Homo sapiens: one gene and its partners. The protein of the gene in region 1 interacts with the protein of each later gene in a pairwise test. Each region holds a gene or a part of one and is shown on either strand. Other genes may lie near its edges.

Evidence for each region.
Region 2: the proteins of CCNL2 (region 1) and ZBTB7B interact in binary tests that used the Homo sapiens proteins (3 or more experiments, as listed by UniProt).
Region 3: the proteins of CCNL2 (region 1) and USP20 interact in binary tests that used the Homo sapiens proteins (3 or more experiments, as listed by UniProt).

Annotation. Positions count from the first base shown.
Region 1 is NC_000001.11:1,389,305-1,396,410, forward strand, and holds part of CCNL2 (cyclin-L2), read right to left. Parts: intron 6,234-7,106; coding exon of another isoform or gene 6,211-6,233; coding exon 6,090-6,210; intron 4,157-6,089; coding exon 4,092-4,156; intron 3,501-4,091; exon of another isoform or gene 3,500-3,500; coding exon of another isoform or gene 3,478-3,499; exon of another isoform or gene 2,286-3,477; coding exon of another isoform or gene 1,993-2,285; exon of another isoform or gene 1,562-1,992; coding exon 1,462-1,561; intron 1,260-1,461; coding exon 1,155-1,259; intron 1,068-1,154; coding exon 926-1,067; intron 1-925. UniProt on the Homo sapiens protein: Involved in pre-mRNA splicing. May induce cell death, possibly by acting on the transcription and RNA processing of apoptosis-related factors.
Region 2 is NC_000001.11:155,012,696-155,019,023, reverse strand, and holds the end of ZBTB7B (zinc finger and BTB domain-containing protein 7B), read right to left. Parts: intron 5,010-6,328; exon of another isoform or gene 4,931-5,009; intron 4,419-4,930; exon of another isoform or gene 4,370-4,418; coding exon of another isoform or gene 4,364-4,369; coding exon 3,210-4,363; intron 2,805-3,209; coding exon 2,339-2,804; 3' UTR 501-2,338; downstream 1-500. Other genes in the region: DCST2 (DC-STAMP domain-containing protein 2), read left to right, coding at 264-480. UniProt on the Homo sapiens protein: Transcription regulator that acts as a key regulator of lineage commitment of immature T-cell precursors. Exerts distinct biological functions in the mammary epithelial cells and T cells in a tissue-specific manner.
Region 3 is NC_000009.12:129,866,379-129,873,484, reverse strand, and holds part of USP20 (ubiquitin carboxyl-terminal hydrolase 20), read right to left. Parts: intron 5,481-7,106; coding exon 5,036-5,480; intron 4,624-5,035; coding exon 4,483-4,623; intron 4,176-4,482; coding exon 4,060-4,175; intron 3,881-4,059; exon of another isoform or gene 3,814-3,880; coding exon 3,641-3,813; intron 3,033-3,640; coding exon 2,938-3,032; intron 4-2,937; coding exon 1-3.

The DNA of each region.
Region 1 (7,106 bases):
CTTGCAATGAGCTGAGATCGCACCACTGCACTCCAGCCTGGACGACAGAGCGAGACTCCATCTCAAAAAAAAGAACTGCAGACAGGCCCTTTGCATCACACTGAACTCTAGGTCTGATGACGTGTATCATCTATGGCCCCACACTATAACACCTTCATCAGATGACAAGCTACCTGGGCAGCAGGATAAACAAAAGCATTTCAGACAACCTGTCATACTCCCTGCTAATCAACAGAAAGGCCAGGTGCCTATGCTCCTAGCACTCTGGGACGCTGAGGCAGGACAATCACTTGAGGCCAGGAAATTCAAGAGCAGCCCGGCCAACATAGCAAGACCCAGACTCAACTAAAAAGATAAAGAATTAGCTAAGCACAGCTGGGCACGGTGGCTCACGCCTGTAATCCCAGCACTTTGGGAGGCTGAGGTGGGCAGATCACGAGGTCAGGAGATCGAGACCATCCTGGCTAACCTGGTGAAACCCCGTCTCTACTAAAAATTCAAAAAATTAGCCAGGCGTGGTGGCGGCCACCTGCAGTCCCAGCTACTCAGGAGGCTGAGGCAGGAGAATGGTGTGAACTCAGGAGGCGGAGCTTGCAGTGAGAGGAAATTGCGCCACTGCACTCCAGCCTGGGCTGGAGCAAGACTCTGTCTCAAACAAAAAGAATTAGCCAAGCATGGTGGCATGTGCCTGTAGTCCTAGCTATGCAGAAAGCTGAGGTGGGAGGATCACTTGAATCCAGGAGTTGGAAGCTGCAGTGAGCTGCGATCACACCACCATACTCCAGCCTGGGTGACAGAGACCCTGTCTCAAAAAAAAAAAAAAAAAAAATGTCTGGAAGGAGCACATACCCCAGAATGGAGGCGGGGGAGAGTCACCAGTCTTTGCCTTTGTGGGGAGTGGATTCCTGCACTCTAACAGACTCACCCAGCTTGGGGGCAGGAGAGAACCCCGAGGTACCATCCAGCACCTGTGTGCCCCCAGGCAACAGGCCCCGGGCTTGGGCCTTTGCCTCTTCGATAGCGTGCTTTCTTTTTTCCACTTCACCCTCCAGGTGTGTGAGATCAACCTGCAAAAGCCAGAAGGTGTCCGTTCAGAACCAGGTGTTTCTGGCCAAACACAAACGCATACGTTACATGAAAAAATGCCGAAGAACCTTTTTCCGAGCATAAAGCTGCAAGATCTTTAAGCAGATTTCCTGAATTTCTTCTTCAGTTGCTCCAAACAAAAGAAACCAATGGGGACGATTGGGCAAAGGGATCTGTAAAAACAAACACTATCATCATTACACTTTCCTCAACTTCACGGCCAGCAAGACTCAGGACAATTAAAAAACAGCCTGTTGGTCACGAAAATGCTTTGGCCCAGATTAGAGTAATTTGAAGAATAACACAGTAAAGTTTACTGGAGGCTGGAGAAAAAAAAATCAGACTAGAATCTCTCCATAGTAGCAACACACTGACCTCCAGCGTCCGGGCAGCAAGATAAATGCAGGCACAGGCGATGCTCTCTGGCTGGAACCGCACGAAGACGTCGGTGCGAAGGCTGTCGTTCATGTAATTCCTGGAAGCCAAACACAGGAAGAACTGCAATGCCCCACCCGGGAACCCAGGTCTTCCGCCTGCATTATCTAGAGAAAATCTAGATAAACGTACTACTCCTCTAAGGAGTCTATTGCTAGGACTCAGAGCTAGACAGTCCTGTGAATCTCAAGAGTTAATGGAGAAATATTCTAGCTGCTTTTTCTAAATACAGTAAATACAGGACAGAAAGGCACAGAAATTATTAGAAAAAAAAAAAGCTGGCTGAATGTCAGACAATACGTGTTGCTATGAAAGAGAACCGACTTTAACTTTACTTTTCCCCTCAACCTTGGCCTGCTCTCATGCAAAGCACGATGCCTCAGAAAGAAAATGTCTACTGGAGTCACTAAAACGCTTTTGATTAAAGAAATCTAAATGCTCAAAATCCATAGTGCAGAGAAACATGCAAACTCAAATGAACTGGCTGAGCACAAAGCCGGTGTGGCTGCTGGGAGACAAGCCATCCTCTTGGGTTCCTCTTCCTCTTCCTCCAGGGCGCTGGCGGCAGGCCCCTTCTCTGCTGACCGAGCTGCAGCTTCCTTGAAGGAGTCCACTTGGAAGAGGGAAAAGCCCCTTGGGTGCAAGTTGGACGCGTGGGAGCATCGTGCGGAGGGAGACTCCGCACCCAAGGGCAGGCCTCTTCTCGGGCTCATCAGAGCCGCTGCCAACTGTCCCATTTCAACAAGGGGTCTTAAAATGAACATTCATAGAATCAGAAGCAACACAATACTGAGAAGCAACATGATACTGAGAAGCAACATAATACTGAACATTTCATCACAGTACATTCTTTAACTTTCATATTTAGAAGCTATAAACATACAAAAATTTACATTTTTTAAAAGTTAAAGCATTTAAAACCTGGCTACATTTTGAGCATTTCCTTTAGATCTCTAAGATTTAATAGACTAAAACCAGACCTTACACTAGCTTTATGAATACTGCAAAAACAGAAAGGGTGATTCCATGAGGACAGTTGAACTGGTTTTATATTTACTGCTCCTCACATACCCCAATAACGGGGAGCCTTGGAGTGGGGCTGCACCCGCAGACGAGGTGGGTTGTGAGGGAATCTGACCCATGACCTTCCAGCAATATCTCTGTCCTAAATAAACCTTGGAGAAGGTAACATACAAACCCACTCAAGAGATTTCTAAATGGGAAGTCCTACAGGTGCCTCTTGGAGACACCCGGCTCTGGAAGCAGCTCCAGGCATCACGGGGGAATCTGTGTGGCGGCCGTGTGGCCCCAGCCCCTGATGCAAGCGTGCCAGTGCACAGCTCTAACACAGATACATTCAACAATCAGTAACCTTTCGGTGTCTAATCAACAACTGTCAGTATTCAAGTAGTGATATTAATCCACGAACTTAAAATTCTTAAAAACAAATGAAATCTTGAGAACATATAAACTTATTGCTGTATTTGAAGTGATACAATATTTTTCAAAGTATCCATGAAATAATTTAAAGATGCACACCTTTTACCAGAGCGTGTCATGCAAAGCTGCTCAAAAGAGCAACTTCAGGGCTTCTAGAAATCATGACATAACCCCACACTGACACAGCCAATTTGTCTCTTCAATTCTCACAGCTTTCCATAGCATTTTTTTTTAAGAGAAAGGTACTGCATCTTTATCATACAGGTACAGCAGTTTTAAAGGGACAAAATTCAAGTCAAGACAGTTACCAACTCTAATCAATACGATTACCAAAGCACGACAGAGGATTAACAAGAAGCACAATCGTCAGAGAACCACAGCAGGAGTCGGCCATGGCTATGCTATGTGCGTACCACCAGTCTAGAGCCAGCCTTCGGTGGAGAGCCTGCACTGGATTGGCTGAAGATGCCGCTGTCCCTGCACCAAAGCGCTTGGACAGCAGAGGAGAAGTCTTAGTCACTTACCCTCAGAGGCTACCCTTTGATTGAAAGAGTACAGAAAAGAAAAGTCAAAATAGGTTCTCTATTAAACATGTCATAGCACCAGACAATTCAGTCAGCAAAAATATGACCCTTACAGACTTAACTCCATGGGAAAAAATTCACCAGAATCCCCAGAATCCCCCAAATACTACATTGCACTTTAGGGTTCCTTTCTAGCACATGCATTGCTAAAATCGGCCCCAGAACCTTCTCTGCCCCTCTCCCATGGGATGCAATGTCAGTGGAGAAACAGACCAAGTCTGCACTAGCCTGTCCCTCCACCCTCCCCAGGAAAAGGTCCCCCTGCGCCAAGTCAACAGCTCCCAGAGGAAGCCCACTGACTGCTCTCTTCAGGGTGGGGGACACAGGAAGTCCAGGCTTGCAGGGAGGGGACGGGCCACCTACCGTGACTGCCAGTGCCCATTTTGGGAGTCTGATTGGAATTTATACAGCAGGAGCACTGGGCACTCGGACAACTCCAGCCCACAACCAAGTCACTGGGCTGCCTACCCACTGCCCAAGTGCCTCAAGTCAACACATTCCTGCACTGCCCTTGCTGGTCTCATAAAACAAGGAAGCTCAACTCACCATGAGGTCTGGACCAGGTGTTGGTTACGCTCACACTCTAACACCTGAAGGTACATAACGATTATCTGGAAGATACGGGTCAGGCAGTTATTACCAAGAACCTTAAGAGCCCAGAATTCAGATCTTGTGGGTGTCCATGCAGCAAACAAGAGCCTCAAGCTAGATCCCAGGAGTGGCTCCTGGCCACACGTCTGGCGGACGGCTCAGCTGGAGGGAGCTTTGCGATTGCACCTGCTGTCTGCCTTGGCAGCCAGGCAGGACGCATGCCCGTGAGCCCAGCCACACAACCCACGGCACAGGCCTCGTTCTTCATGGGGCTGGTTTCATTCTAGTCTTCAATGCCTTTCCACCAGTGAGGTTGGCCTGTCCTACACGTCTCTGTATCCCAGTTAACAACTCACCAAAACACAATATGAACATACTTTCAGCAAACAGAGAAGAACACTTCAGGCCAGGCACACTGGCTCATGCCTATAATCCCAGCACTTTGGGAGGCTGAGGCGGGCAGATCACCTGAGGTCAGGAGTTCGAGAACAGCCTGACCAATATGGAGAAACCCAGTCTCTACTAAAAATACAAAATTAGTCAGGCATGGTGGTGCACGCCTGTAATCCCAGGTACTCAGGAGGCTGAGGCAGGAGAATCGCTTGAAACCAGGAGGCGGAGGCTGCATGAGCTGAGGTTGCGCCATTGCACTCCAGCCTGGACAACAGAGCGAGATTCCGTCTCCAAAAAAAAAAAAAAAGCACTTCAATCTGTGGTGGGCAATTTGTGGATAATTTGAACAGATGGCAGAAAGCCGAACAAGCAGATGAGGAAACCCACCAATAAAAAGGAGATGGAACCAAAGATGGAAACAATTTTTTGGGAAAACAAGTGCTTTGTTTCCATGTGACACAGAAGGCACCCACAACGCTGGGAGTGAGGGACCGTGTCACGGCCATGGTCCTCAGTCAGTACATGCCGCAAAACTCGCCAGTCATTTCAGACTAAAGGGGCCAGAATTCCCCTAATTTCTCCATAAGAGAAAGTAAAGCTATCACTAAAGCAAATGTAGAAAATTAACTGTTGAGGCTGGGTGCAGTGGCTCACACTTGTAATCCCAGAACTTTGGGAGGCCGAGGCAGGTGCATCACCTGAGATCAGGAGTTTGAGACCAGCCCGGCCAACATGACGAAACCCCATCTCTACTAAAGATACAAAAATTACCCAGGTGTGGTGGCGCATGCCTGTAATCCCAGCTACTTGGGAGGCTGAGGCACAAGAATCACTTGAACCTGGGAGGCAGAGGTTGCAGTGAGCCAAGATTGCACCACTGCACTCCAGCCTGCATGACAGAGTAAGACTCCGTCTCAAGAAAAAAAAAAAAAAAAAAAAAAAAGGCCAGGCACAGTGGCTTATGCCTGTAATCCCAGCACTTTGGGAGGCCAAGGTGGGAGGATCACGAGGGCAAGAGATGAAGACCATTCTGGCCAACATGGTGAAACCCCGTCTCTACTAAAAATACAAAAATCAGCTCGGCGTGGTGGCACGTGCCTGTAGTGCCAGCTACTCAGGAGGCTGAGGCAGGAGAATGGCTTGAAGCCGGGAGGTGGAGGTTGTGCCTCCACTGCCACTGCCACCATGCCACTGCACTCCAGCCTGGCGATAGAGCGAAACTCCATCTCAAAAAAAAAGAAAACAAAAAAAAATTAACTGTAGAGAAAGGAAAACATAAACTAAAATTCAACATTTATAAACTCACCACTATTTTTGAAAGCCCAAACTTAAATAATACCATTTCCAAAACACTTAAAAATGTGTTACTAAAATAAACAGCTGACACTAGAAGACGAATACGTCAGGAACTATTCTTGAGATTATAAATAGAAACTGGAAAGCCAAGTCAGGGATGCACTCAGTCCTCTTCAGAGCCTTCAACTGCACTGAGGTGGAGAGAGGCGGCCAGGCAGGAGCAGCGGCCTAGGCGGGCTCGCAGGGCAGGAGCCGCACACCCACCTTATGAGGATGCTTCACATGGACGCAGAAACCCAACTCTTTGAGAACTCGTCTTTCCGCCTTTATAATTTGGTTCTTTAAATTAACATAATCTTGATCCAGTAGTAGAGGCACGGGCTTCCTGCCAGAGAGAGAGCACAGGGTCTGCACCACAGTCAAGCAGAGCAAGGCTTCTGAGATCCCGTCGTTACCTCCAACTATGAGCACCTAACACAAACCCCACAACACAACATCGCTATGAAGTCCACATCCTCTGATGAACAAAACTGCACACCGCTCCCCACAGCCCAGTGCCAACCTCCTCATCCCTTCCCAACGATCCCTCCCTGCTTTTCCTTATAGATCAACAGCTTCTGGTGCACAAGCATAGACCGAACATAGCAAGTTTTAGGATCTCGTGGCACAAATGCTAAAGCACTTTATGTGACTCACGATAGGAAGGTACATATTCACAGTTCAATAACCACAGAACCAATGAAAGCACAATTATTTAAATACAGATGGGCCAGGTGCAGTGGCTCTGCCTGTAATCCCAGCACTTTGGGAGGCGAGGCAGGCAGACTGCCTGAGCTCAGGAGTTCAAGACCAGTCTGACCAACATGGTGAAACCCTGTCTCTACTAAAAAAATGCAAAAATTAGCCGGGCGTGGTGGCGGGTGCTTGTAATCCCAGCTACTCAGGAGGCTGAGGCAGGAGATTCACTTGAACCCAGGAGGCGGAGGTTTCAGTGAGCCGAGATCGCATCACTGCACTCCAGCCTGGGTGACACGGTGAGACACAGTGAGAGTCCGTCTCAGAAAAAAAAAAAAAAAAAAAGGGCTGGGTGCAGTGGCTCACACCTGTAACCCCAGCACTTTGGGAGGCCGATGAGGCCATGTTTTTTCTTTTTTTGAGATGGAGTCTCACTCTGTTGCCCAGGCTGGAGTGCAGTGGCGCGCTCTTGGCTCACTATAACCTCCACCTCCCAGGTTCAAGCAATTCTCCTGCCTCAGCCTCCCAAGTAGCTGGTATTACAGG
Region 2 (6,328 bases), about 150 Mb from region 1:
GGTGTGACTACTGAGGTCACTAGTGATTCTGCCCTTCCTAGCCATGTGGCCTCAGGCAAGTCACTGCCCACCCCCCAGCATCAGCCTAAAATCAGAAAATATCTACAGCCATGGGCTGGTACGCCTCGTGGGCCTGAGAGAGCAGGAGTTGCTCAGAAAGAACAGGAGCTGGATCTGAACAGATGGGGCAGGGCAGGGGGCAGGGATGCACCTGTGAAGACAGAAGGTGGGTGATCCGGCCACCCCCTTCCTCTCCTCACTAGTGACCTGGATGAGGAGAAGGGGCCTCAGCAGAGGAAGCACGGGCAGCAGCCCTTACCTGAAGCCCATCAGCCTGTCAGCATTCTCACCAGCCCTGAGCCCCACAGACCACCTGAGACATCCTCCGCCACTAAAGGAGCCCCCACTCCAGCTTCAGAACCCTCAGTCCCTCTCTCACCTCCCTCTCTTCCTGATCCTTCCCACCCACCCCCCAAATAAACCAAAAGTGGACACAAGTGTGAATCTTAAATTATTATTATTTCTTCCTGTCGCTTACACCCGAGGTGGGGGAGTTGGGGTGGGGGGAAGGGAATAGGAGGGGGGGAGTGCCTCTCCCCCTAAGGCACTGACTGGGAAAGCCGAAAGTAGGGAGAAGGGAGGCCACATTGTCCCCACTTTCTGGGGCTGGGCCCCAGGTCTCCCCAGCCCTGGGCTCCCCCCATCACCTGAAATGCTAAGATGAGGCCCAGGACAACCCGATCTCCCCGCCACCCCAATATATTACATCATCACTTTTTAAATAGATAACAGGGACTGGTCCCGCTACCCCCTCCCTGTGACCCCTCCCCACTGTTAGGGGTACCTGGGCAGCTGTGCAAATGGGCATGGGGGTGCATGGAAGGGAGGAAGAGCACCGGGCCCCTGAACCTGCCCCTTTTAAGGAGGGGGAGGAGCCGTCAGGCCAGGAAGGGGAAATAGTGCAAGGCAGAGCCCAGGCTGCAAAAGGGGTCCAGCACCCAGCGAGGAAGGGGGGGTGTCCCCCACCCCCAGCAGAATTGGGTAGTTAAAAATCTGAAACTAGATTTCAACAAGACCAACAGAAGAGGCTATGTACAGAATGGGGGTGGATTCAATCCTAAGAGCAGAGTGGGGATTATTCTCCCCTGCCTGACAGGAAGCCCGGCTGGCAAGGATCTGGGAAGGGGATCACTTTCCCACAGGTCCGCAGCCCCTTCCCCTGCGGCCAAGCGAGAAGTTCTGTGCCCACTGCCTTGGCAAGGGGGCGCCGCTCACCAGCTGGGGTGGATGAGGAGCGTGAAGACAGCTCGCTCCAGTGGCCGCGGGGGGCGCTCGCCCACTCAGAGCATGGCCGCCAGATGGCGCCGGCTCGCCCGCTCTCCACAAGGCTCTTCCAACCCCTTACCCTGTCCCACACCCTTCGCTGCGCCAGCCCGGGGGCGGCGTGAGTCAGGGGCGGCAGCGGTGGCGGCGGCTCCGGCTCGCACCTGGGCGGGGAGGAGATGGGGAGGAGGAGAAGAGGGTAGGACGCCGCCCGGCCCGCCCTGCCCTCTGGCCCCGGGGAGGGAGCGGCGGGAACAAGACATTCCCTGCCCAGGGCCGTGGGGAGGGAGGGCTAGGGAGGGGAGTGGAACGGAGCGGCTCCCCTAGCTGGGCGGGGCCCCTCTACTGCCCCCAGGGGCAGGCGAGCCAATCAGGCCACCCCGCCCCCTTCTCCACGACCCCATGACTCAGCGCCGGGAGCAGGGCGGAGGGGGACTGGGATGGCTCCTTCCTTACAGGCCCAGTCCCCCAGTCTTTCAAGCTTCCACCTGGCTTTCCCCCACCTACCCTTCCTTTGCCGGCCCCCTTTGCATAATTCACTGCCAGGAAAAAGGAACAGAAACCAGGAAGGAGGGGTCTCGAAAGGGAGGGGCAGTCCTTCACCCCCTTACACAGCCAAAACCCCCAAGGGGCATAGGGGCGGGGCAAGGCTTTGGTCCCAAGCCCCCACCCCCTAGAAACCCGCATAGCCGAAGTGGGACCCACAAATTAGAAATACATTATTGCTTCTACTCCCCAGGAGCAGCTGGGGACAGGGACCCCACTTTTACAATACAGCTGTAAATATATACACAATATATGTATCACTCCTTGGGGGATCACCCCAATTTGGGGAGCCTCTGCCCCAATACCTTCTTAGCTTGGAATTGGAATGAGGGCTCTGGGAGGAAGGGCTGATGCTGATGCCAGCAAGGCTCCGTGCCCCAGACCCCTGCTGTGTCTGTCCTGCGTGCTCCCACTGCTTGGCATGGGTGTCCCCGGCCTTGTGCTGCTTCAGTCTGGCCCTCGTCCCTCTTTAAGAGGACTCCATGGCACCTTCAGCCTGGGGTGTGGTGGGTGCCCCTTCCTCCTCATCGTCATCAGGGGGCCCTGGGGTAGAGACCGGGGGCCCAGTGGGGGCTGACTGCTCCCAGAATCGAGCTAGAGAGAGGCGGAAGGTGTCCAGGTGGCCATTGGAGAGGTCGAGGCCAGCGGGGGATGCAGCAGCGGTAGAGGGTGGTGGGTAGTGGGGTGGTGCATCGTCCTTGCGGCGCCGTCGGGTGCGCACCTCCAGGCAGTTCTGGCCTTTGAGGTGGCGCTGCAGGTGGTCCTCCTTGGCGAAAGCCTTGTGGCACAGGTGGCACTCATAGGGCCGGTCCCCTGTGTGCAGGTGCATGTGGTTCTTGAGGTCGTAGCTGTGCAGGAAGCGGGCTGGGCAGTGCGGGCATGAGTAGGGGCGCTCTCCCGTGTGCTTCCGCATGTGGATCTTCAGCTTGTCGTTCCTGGCACAGGCAGGGGTGAGGGGCAGGGAGGTGTTCAGGATGGGATCCCTGGCTCCTCCTGGTCATCCCACCCTGGCCTTGTCCCATCCCTGTTCCTCACCATTTGTTACCCCACTATTGCCCCAGGAGATACCCTGCTAGCTCACCTCTAGCTTAACTAGGCCTTGTCATTATCCACTCCTCTGCTTCCAGCACTGCCCTCCTGGGCACCGAATCCTCCATGCTCCAGATCCACCCCCTGCTGGCTTGTTTTCTTCTGCTCTCCTCACTCCAGTAACCCACCCATGCCCCAGTCCCTCCAGGACCACCTACCACCACCTCGGGTCTCCTAACTTCTTCCCCATCTCCTCCCACCCTGTCCCCTACCCATGGCCCCTGCCGGGCCCTTCCCCCCTTGCTGCTCACCTGGTGAATCGAACACCGCAGACCTCGCAGGCAAAGGGCTTCTCGCCTGTGTGGGTCCTCATGTGGCGAGGCAGTTTGCCTGCCCCATGGATGATCTTGTGGCAGACAGGGCACTCCTGAGGCATCTGGGAGCGGCGTTTGCGCACCAGCTTGTCTTGGCTGTCCAGGCCTGGTGCCAGGTTGTCCTGGTGCAGGGAGCTTAGGTAGGCCATCAGGTCAGGATCGATGGCATCCTCATCTGAGCCCAGCTCCTCTGGGGACAGCGGGGGCCCGCCACCCTGCGCCAGCCCATAGGCTGGGGGATATACCAGCTCCTCTTCTTCTTCCTCACCCTCATAGGGTTCGTAGCTCTGGGGACCCTCAGGAGGGGAGGCAGTTCCTGTGGGAGGGCTGTAGCTGTCCCCCGGCCCACTGCCCCCACTGCTGCCCACTCTGCCCGCCACCTCCTCCTCCTCATAGGTCAAGGGATGGGCGGGCACTGTGGGCACCTCAGGGACTAGGTGGTTTGCTCTGGCCCCCTTGGTTTGCAGGAAAGCTTTCCGGGGCTTGCGGCTGCGGCGGGCAACAGGCCGAGGTGGCGGTGGCGGAGGTGGTGGGAGGGGCACCTGTGGAGGACTGTCTTCACCATTGGGAACTCCAGAGGCCGTGGCTGTGGCAAAGGCCTCCAGATACTGGCGGGCTCGCTCACAGTCATCCTCGTCCGGGCTGGGAGCTTCTAGCCCACTGCCCTGCAGAATCTCCATGCAAGCAGCGATGACACACGGGATCTCCAGCAGGCGGGCAGCCTGGAGCACAGCTGGCATGTTGGCGCTGCTGGTGGTCAGTGTGGCTGTATAGGCAAATTCAAGGAGGGCGCCTAGTGCCTCTGGCCCTACAAAGTCCAGCTCACACACACCGGCCCCTGCTCCCCCAGTGGCCGTCCCGCTACCCCCGGCCCCCATGACAGCTCCGCCACCGCCCTCAGTGAAAAGCTTCTTGAAGTAGTGGCTACAGGCAGCTAGCACAGCCCTGTGGGTGCGGTATTCAAGGCCCTGCGTCCGGATGGTGAGGTCACATAGGTGGCCCAGCTGGCGCTGCTCATTGAGGCAGCTCAGGAGCTCACTGCTGTGGTCCGGGAATGGAATCCCAATCAGGTCATCCTCGGGGCTCCCCATCTTCTCCTGCAGAGTCAAGTAGAGGGGAGATTAAGAGCGCTCAGCCCACAGGGGTCTGGGGAAAGAGGACCAACTTTAGCCAATACTTATTGAGGGATGACTGCATGCCAGTCACCCTTCTGAGTACTTTACACTCATTTCATCTTCCAGAACCCTCTGAAGTATGATCATCATCTGTTTCACAGACAAGGAAACTGAGGTTCAGACAGGTGAAGTGATTTTCCAAGTTAAGTGCAGAACAGTGTTCAAACTCAGGGAGTGGGCCCGGTCCTTGTTCCTAACCACTATACTATTCTACTCTGCCTCTGTGGCAGCAGGAGCCCTGCCTTTCTGGCCCTTTCATGGAGGTCCATCTATGTCACCTGCCCCATTCCCCATCTCTTTGGAAGGAGCAGTGGACTGGGAGATAGGATGCCTGGGTCCCGGTTCAGGCTTCATAAAGAATTGGCTGAAGGACCGGGGGTGGTACTGGCAGCTGGCCTCAGTCATTTGAAAAGTGAGGTAACAGTCTTTGTAATGAACCTCCTCATAACCTGGGGAGAGGCCAATGAGAGAGTTCAGACTCACACTGGACCAAGATCTGCTGGAGGCCAGGCACAGACAGGTGCTTTAACTCAAGTTATCGCTCTCCAAAGCGGTTAGGACACTGTAAAACATATGCAAACAAGAGAAGGCAGCTTCCAAGCATCATCCTCTTCCTCCTCTTGCCCCTCCCCTGGCTACCAAAAGTTCATCTCCCCTTCTAGATCCCCCACTTCTCCAGGCCAAACGGGAAACACAGCTCCCAGCATCCCTCCCCCCACATCCTCCCCTCCCCCATGGGGCCAAGGAGCAGCCACCCTTTGCTGGGGTGTCACTGGCTGGCGCGGGTGCTTCCTGCCCCGCACAGATAAGCATCGCCCCCGCCCCCTCCCCCACTGCCAATAGGCCAAGTTCCAGTCCCACCCCCCACCTCCCCCTCAGCTACTGCCACCCCTCCCTCCCTATTCCAGGAGAGCCCCGTCTCCAGAAGGCCTTGGTCCTGCTCTCTATCCTTTACCCTCCAAGGCCCAGCCACAGGAGGTGGGTGCAGAGCAGCCAGGAGGTGGGTGCAGAGCACCAAGGCTGGCAGAGGTGTCGGCAGGGGTTGGGGCCTGGAAGGGGGTGAGACCTGCTTTAAATCCTGGCTCTGCTACTGTCTTGCTGAATGACCTTGGGAAAGTCATTTCTCTCTGTGCTTCCATTTCCTCAGCTGTGCAAGGAGGGGGTGGAAGTAGTGGCCCCAATGGCTCAGACCTTCAGCCCTGACATTTTGTGGGTCTGGAGCAACTGGAGACAGTGCTGGGGCTTGGAAAGAACTGGGCTCTGGAGTCAGCCAGGCTTGAGTTTGAATCCTGTCTCTGCCACCAGTTAGCTCCATGACCTTAAACAAGTGATTTAATCTCTGAGCCGCCTTCCTCATCTGTAACATAGGATAATTCCACCTGACTCCTAGGGTTGTGGTGAGGGTTAAATGAGACCAAATATGGCACAATGCCTGATATGCAGTAGGGATTCGATAAATGTTCTGGCCTTGGCCTAGCCTGGGGTCAGATTCCACTATACAGATGGCCTCTGTTAAGAAAACTACTTGGGGACAGGTCTGCCTCCCTCCCTCAAATCACCCTGAGGGAACCAAGCTACTACTAGCTACATGACTTTGGACAAGTCACTTCCTTTCCTGAGGAAGCCTGTTCCTCATATGTAATATTAAAGACTGGCCCAGATGATCCCTAAGGCAAGTCCCACTGACATTTTGTCAGTGTCCCCTCTGCCACTCCAGCAGCTGTTCAGACCTGGCCATTGATGGGGAAAGGTTTTTTTTTTTTTTGGGTGGGGGGGTGAATGGGGGAGTCAAGCCACAAATTTCCTCTTTAGGACACAAGAAGTGCATTCTCTGTGTCTGCCTCCCTGCCTGCCCTCTTCATTGCAAGGCCAGGGCTCCTG
Region 3 (7,106 bases), on another chromosome or scaffold:
CACCTAGGGCAGTAAAACAAAGGGTCAGAGGTTAGCAAGGATGCAAAATGAGGGAGCAAAAAAAAGTGACTATAATGATTTCTGCTTAAGAAATAAAACCTGGCTGGGCATGGTGGCTCATGCGTGTAATCCTAGCACTTTGGGAGGCCGAGGCGGGCGGATCCCCTGAGGTCAGGAGTTCGAGGCCAGCCTGGCCAACATGGCGAAACCCCATCTCTACTAAAAATACAAAAATTAGCTGGACGTGGTGGTGCGTGCCTGTAATCCCAGCTACTCAGGAGGCTGAGGTGGGAGAATCGCTCGAACCTGGGGGGCTCGGGGCAGAGGCTGCAGTGAGCTGATGCCACTGCACTCCAGCCTGGGTGACAGAGTAAAACTCCATCTCAAAAAAAAAAAAAAAAAAAGAAGAAGAAAAAGAAAAAGAAATAAAACCTGAGAGGTACTGGAGGGAGGGAAGGCCCTGGCTGGGCCCCACAGCCAGAATCCATACAAGGGAGAAATGGTTATATTTGACCCCAGAAATACTTCAACATCTGTAAGATACCACCAAAAGCAAAATTAAAAGGCAAAAGGCAAAATGGAGGTGGGGTGGGAAGTGCAACATTAATTACAGAAAATGTATTTGAAACAATTTTTTTGAGATAGGGTCTTGCTATGTTGCCCAGGCTGGTCCCAAAGTCCTAGGCTCAGAGGACCCTCAGCCTCCGGAGTAGCTGGGGTCACAGGTACATGCCACCATGACCAGCTTAAAATCTTAATGTATAGTTTCCCCCTCCATGCACACTGTGAAAATTAAGTCAAAATGGGATCAAAGATCTCAATATAAGACCTAAAACTATAAAACTTTTAGGAGAAAAGTAGGAAAAAAGTTTCATGACATTGGATCTGGCGATGATCTCTGAAACACAACACCAAAGGTGCAGGCAACCAAAGCAAAAGACACAAACCACAGAATGAAACGCACCCTACAGGATGGGAGGACAGGGTTATAAGTCACGTATCTGGACACATAAAGAACTCCTCTAACTAACGAGGCCGGCACCGTGGCTCACACCTGTAATCCCAGCACTTTGGGAGGCCAAGGCAGCAAATCCATTTGAGGTCAGGAGTTCGAGACCAACCTGGCCAACATGGCAAAACCCCATCTCTACTAACAATACAAAAATTAGCCAGGTGTGGTGGCACGTGCCTATAATCCCAGCTACTCGGGAGGCTGAGATGGGAGGACTGCTTGCACCCAGGAGGCGGAGGCTGCAGTGAGCCAAGATCATGCCATTGCACTCCAGCCTGGGTGACAGAGTGAGACTCTGTCTCAAGAAAAAAAAGAATCCCTATAACAAGCAACAAAAAACAAAATAGGCAAAAGACTCACATAGATGTTTTTCCAAACACTTACAAATGGCCAACAAGCATATGAAAAGACACTTAACATCACTATCATTAGGAAATGCAAATCAAAACCACAACGAGGCTGGGTGCGGTGGCTCACGCCGGTAATCCCAGCACTTTGGGAGACCAAGGCAGGCGGATCACCTGAGGTCAGGAGTTCAAGACCAGCCTGGCCAACATGGTGAAACCCCATTCTACTAAAAATACAAAAATTAGCCAGCCGTGGTGGCATGTGCCTGTAATCCCAGCTACTCGGGAGGCTGAGGCAGGAGAATCGCTTAAACCCAGGAGGTGGAGGTTGCAATAAGCCGAGATCATGCCATTGCACTCCAGCCTGGGCGTCAAGAGAGAGACTCCGTCTCAAAAACAAAACAAAACAAAACAAAAAAAACGCACAATGAGATACCACCTCATACCCATGAGGTTGACTCCCATCAAAAAAGTAAACAAAATGAGTGTGGACGACGATGTGGAGAAACTGGAACTCTTGTGCGTCACTGGTGGGAATGTGAAATGGGGTGGCCACTGTGGAACCCAGTACGGTGGCTCCTCGAGAAATTAAAAATAGGCATAGACCCAAAGGGATGAAAGAAGAGAGGTGTGCACACCCATGGTCAGAGCAGCATTCCTCACAATAGCTAACAGGGAAGCGGCCTGAGTGTCCACTGACGGATGAACGAATAAGCAGAAAGGCCCCAGCCATCCACACAATGGAACAATAAATAACCAGCATACAAAAGGCAGGGCATTCCGACACACACGCTGCAACGTGGATGAACCCTAAGGACGTTATGCTCAGTAAAAGCCGTCAGTCACAAAATGGCAAGTACTGTATAATTCCACTTCTATGAGGCCTTTAGAGTAGTCACATTCACAGACTTGAATGTGGAGGTTGCCAGGGGCTGGGAGGTGGGAGTAGGGAGCTGTTTCACGGATACTGAGTTTCAGGTTTGCAAGATGTAAAAGTTCTGGAGATGAATGGGGAGGATGGCTGCGTGACCATGTGCATGTATTTAACACTACTCGACTGTGCACTTTCTGTTAAAAACAGCATTTACAATGGTTATGGTGGTAAATTTTACATTTTGTGTATTTTATCGCAATTGAAAATTGGAAATAAAAAAAAAAGAGAGAGTTTTCCCAAAGGTTTAGATGCCAAATAGCCAACGGAGAAAAAGAACAAGAACAGGAATGGGCAATGTTTAAATAAATACATAGAGCCAGTATATTTAACAAAAAATGTAGAAACTCATCAGTAATCAAGGAAATGAAAAATTAACATACATCATTTTTGCCCACCAAATTGGTAAAAATAAAAATAAGTGAACACTCAAGAGCTGCAAGATGATGGGGTTGGGATAGCACATGGCCCTGGTCCAGCGTGGCTGGCAGTGGGCGTGGGTATCTGATGGGATCAACCTTGGAAGCCAAGTCTAGCCTGGCTGTGCATCCCACAAGCCCTGGGCTGCATGCTGGCCTGCTGGGGTCTGCACATCCCCGTCCCCACAACCCTCCACCTCCCCGACCCTTGCCAGCCAGGCCCCTCACCCTTTAACTCATCAGCGGCAAAGAAGGCAGCAAGGCAGTCTTCCAGGGTGACGACAGGCCCCCAAAACCAGCTGGGGGTACAGGATACCACAAACCTACAGACAGAAAAGGAGTGCAGGGGTGCTGCCAGGGCCTGGGCAAGAACAGGAGCTGAAGGGACTCTGGCTGAGGTCTGTCAGGCCTGAGCCGCAGAAGGACCCTGAAGGCCCAGAGAAGCAGCCGGGCACGGCGGGTCGGGGCAGAGGCCTGGAGCCAGACACGTCCGTGTCCTGGGCCGAGTGACATCATCTCTCCGCAAGCCTGGCCTCCTTCATCTGTGTTGCGGCCATGATCATGCTACCCCCTCCCTGGGGTCATGCGGGTCTCTGGCCTCAGGCAGGAGAGGCAGCCCTGGGAAAGCTGCTGCCCTTCCCGCCAACCAGGCCTGTGTCCTGCTGCTGCCCTCCCTTCAACCTGCCATGTGGTCACCTCCCTGCTGTCCATCGCCCTCCAGCTCCAAGGGACTATCCAATCCTGGCCACTTCAAAGTAGCCAAGAAATCCCCTGCATATTAAGCCAACTCCTCTGCAGGCTTCGGCCCCCAGCTCCTCCCAGGACCTCCCTGGTTCCCCAAATGCATGGACTTCACTGTGTACTGTCTCCCGCCCAGGAAAACCAGGACAGGCCCAGCCCATGTCGCCCAGTAGTGGCAAGGTGGGCGCACCGTCGGATGTACTCCACAATGAAGGCCAGCCAGCCCTGGGCGGCATAGCTGTCCCCACAGGCGCCTGGCTTGGCCGGCACATTCTGGTAGATGGCTGAATGGAGCTTGGCCAGGTCCTCCTTTCCAGGAATGGGCAGTGATAAGTCCTGGAACGTTTCCACTGTGGTGGATACCTGTGGGGTTGAAGGTCAGTCTGCTGCCCATCCTCTGGCAATGTCTGCACCCCAAACCCCAAGCAGCAGGTGAGGGGCAGAGGGACTACTCCCCAGGCCATAGACACGGGATCCACGCAGGCAGGGCCCTCCCCTGGATAAAAGCAGGGAGCACCCGTGGAGAGCCCACCCTGCACCCAGTCAGGGCAAGAGCTGCTGAGGCCACTGGCAGCCTGGCCCAGCTCCCCCCATCCCTGGGGCACCCACCCGGTCACAGGTGAGACACTGCACAAGGCTGAGAATGGAGCCGTCAAAGATGTCTGAGATGACGCTGCGGTAGCGCTGCTCCTTCCGCCTCCGGCTGCCAGCACTCAATACCTGGGCTGGGGACACAGCACAGGACTAGCCCAGCCTCCACCTGCCTGGCCGGGGCGAGGTGCGGGCCCTGCGGCTTCCTTTGACAGGATGTGGAGTGACATCCGTGAGTCACATGACTGGGTAAGCAATTCACCATCTCATGCCTCTGTGTCATCCTCTGCAAAACGTGGCTCCCACACTGGTGTCTCAGGGGTGTACCTGAGAGGAGCCCATAGCCCGGCCCTCCGCCACAGGGGGCCATGAGAAAGGCAGCTACGGGCGTAATCTGTACTCCCAGCCTCAAGCTGACCCACCCTCCCGTGCCCCCCGAACCTTTCTTGAGCACGTACGACGGTGCCATCCTCACGGGGCTTGCACGAGGGGGGCTGCTAGACAGCTTGGCATGGCCCTCGTGGTGGTGGACGGGGCTGCAGGGGCGAGAGGAGCTGCGTAGGTGAGCATCATTGTCCGGCTCTGGGGGCAGAGAGGGTACCATGCTGGGCCAGGGCAGCCAGGCCAGCTCCACGAGTGGGCAGGAAGATGACCTGCCAGCCCCTCCTAAAGGGACGAAAGCCTGACCCTAATGTGTCTCCTCTGTCATGTGCCCACTCCTGGCCCCAGCACACAGGCCGGAGCAGACCTGTCCAATCCATGTCCGGCTGGAAGGCTCAGGGCTCTGGGAGAGGGCTCTGAATTGGGCTCCAGCATTATGAGCTAGGGGACCCTGGGCACATCACTGAGCCCCCCCGGAGGCTGACTTCCCCACTGTCATTCGGGTCTAGTGAAGAACCCGTCCCCCGGGGGCTACTGCAGGTCGGCGCTCAGCACCCGGTAGGTACTGGGCCATAGGCTGAGGTTCCTCCCGCAGTCCCCGGCCAGCTGATACCTGGCGTCCGGCAGGGGCTGGAGGACCGTGGTGACGGGGGCTGGGCCTCCGCGGGCTGGTCGTCAAGGGCAGCCATGGCAGTGTCCACATCAGCGTCCTCGTCCACTTGCTCCGAGTTTGTACGCTGCTGGCCCCAGGAGAACTTGCGGTCCTTCATCCGCTCCTTCTCAGAGATGGCTCGGCCCGCCTCATCTGGGATCAGCAGCTCCGTCTCGGCCTGCGAGCTGCCCCCGCCACGCCCCTGCCCGTCACCCTCACCCCGGTCACTGCTCGAGTCACAGGACAAGAACTCATCTTCTGATGGGCTCCGGTCACCCTCCCGTTTCTCATCCGTGTCACTCGAATCTGAGTCCCGAGCCTCCGTCAGCGCCACCGTGGCCACCACCGGCTCCTTGAGCTCCTCGTGCAGCTGGTCCATCAGGCAGCGAAGGAACTCTTGGGTGTCCTAGAACCAGGGGCTGCATCAACAGGGCTCCCCTGGAGGCAGGAGGAACCAGTCTCCAGCGCCCTGTGGCTGATGAGAGCGCCAGCCTCCATCTAGGAGGACCTCATGGGCGCCCCCTGCAGAAGAGTTGCTCACCCCCACAGCGGCCTCCCATGGCAGTCTGTCCTAACCCCATTCTTCTGAGGATAACAGTGAGGACTGGAGAGGCTAAAGGACACCTACCAGGACACACAGCTAGAAAGTGTCAGAGCCAGGTATGCACCTGGGTCCATGCAACTCCCCGGCTCCGGCTCTGAATCTCCTGCCTCTGCTGCAAGCTCAGCACGGGAGGGACAGAGAGGCAGTACCACATTAAGCCCGAGCCACCTTTCTCCCTACAGATGAGACCAGTGGAGGTGGGCAGGGGGGTGGCGGAAGGATGAGGGAGTGTGATGCCAAAAGAGGACTCACCCGAGTCCTGCCCCAAGCCACGCTACCCACAGGCCAGACTGCCTGCATGCTCTACCCTTCCTCTGGCTCCCCCTGCTCCCTCAGTCCCTGTGCCAGCCCCCACATACCCTCACTGCCTGCTCTCACCTTCCCACAGACCTGGTCATGACTCAGTCTAAGCTGCCCCTGCAGGCTGCCTGGGTCTCAAATCCCAGCAATGACCATTTTATCCTGACCACTCTGTGACTGGGCCACCAGCACAGCAGGAAGCCAAGGCAGCAGGGGCTCGGGCAGAGGCGCCCAGTGAGCCCCACTGAGATCTGTGTGCTCACACAGGGGGTGCACTGGGAGGTCAGAACGTGGTGGTGGCAGCAGACCCCAGCAGCTAGCGGGTGCTCGGGTGGTGCTGGGCATTGGAGAAGGACTTGGGTTCCGAGCCCAAATCAGCCCCAGCAGTCCCTGACCTGGTTGTTAGAAGCAGCCCTCAGCCCAGGCTCTGATCCCCAGGAGGCAGGGGTCACGTAGCAGCCAGAGCCAGCCTCATGTCACACATCTGGGAAGAGGATCCCGGCTCTCTCCACTCATGTGCAGGGAAGGGAGGGCTCAGGAGGGACTCCCCAAGGCAAAGTGTCAGGCTCCAAGATCAGAGGAATGAACCACGAGGTTACATTGCATCAGGGAGGGGACACGTGTCCTGTGGCAGGCACGATCAAAGGCCCTTTCAAGAAGAGGCTTTCAATCTGCCATCTACTTCTCTTTCTGGTTCTTCCTTTCAACAAAAGTACTATGTGTTCCTTGCCAAAATCTCAATCCATGCAGAAGCACAAAAGAGTCTTTTGGCCCTTAAGAGGCGCCCGCAGCTGCGTCTACAGTTCAGCCTCAGAAGTGTCCCCACACGATATCCTAAAACCACAGAAAGGGATGCTTCTGCCGGAGCCCAGATGGAGTCCTGCCGCAGCGCATGGCCCTCCGTAACGGCATCCTGACCCAGAGCTGAAAGCCGGCAGGGCGCCTTGCACACAGTCAGGGTGGTGCTGTGCTGAGGGATGGGCTCAGGTAGGCCTGAATGCCATCTCTGCCAGGATGTGCTGTGTGACCTGGGTGAGGGGTAGAACCTCTCTGAGCCTCAGCTCTTTACCTGTAACGTGTGGGTGACAACAGTGCCCACTTTGTGAGACTTCTATGAGGACTAAGTTG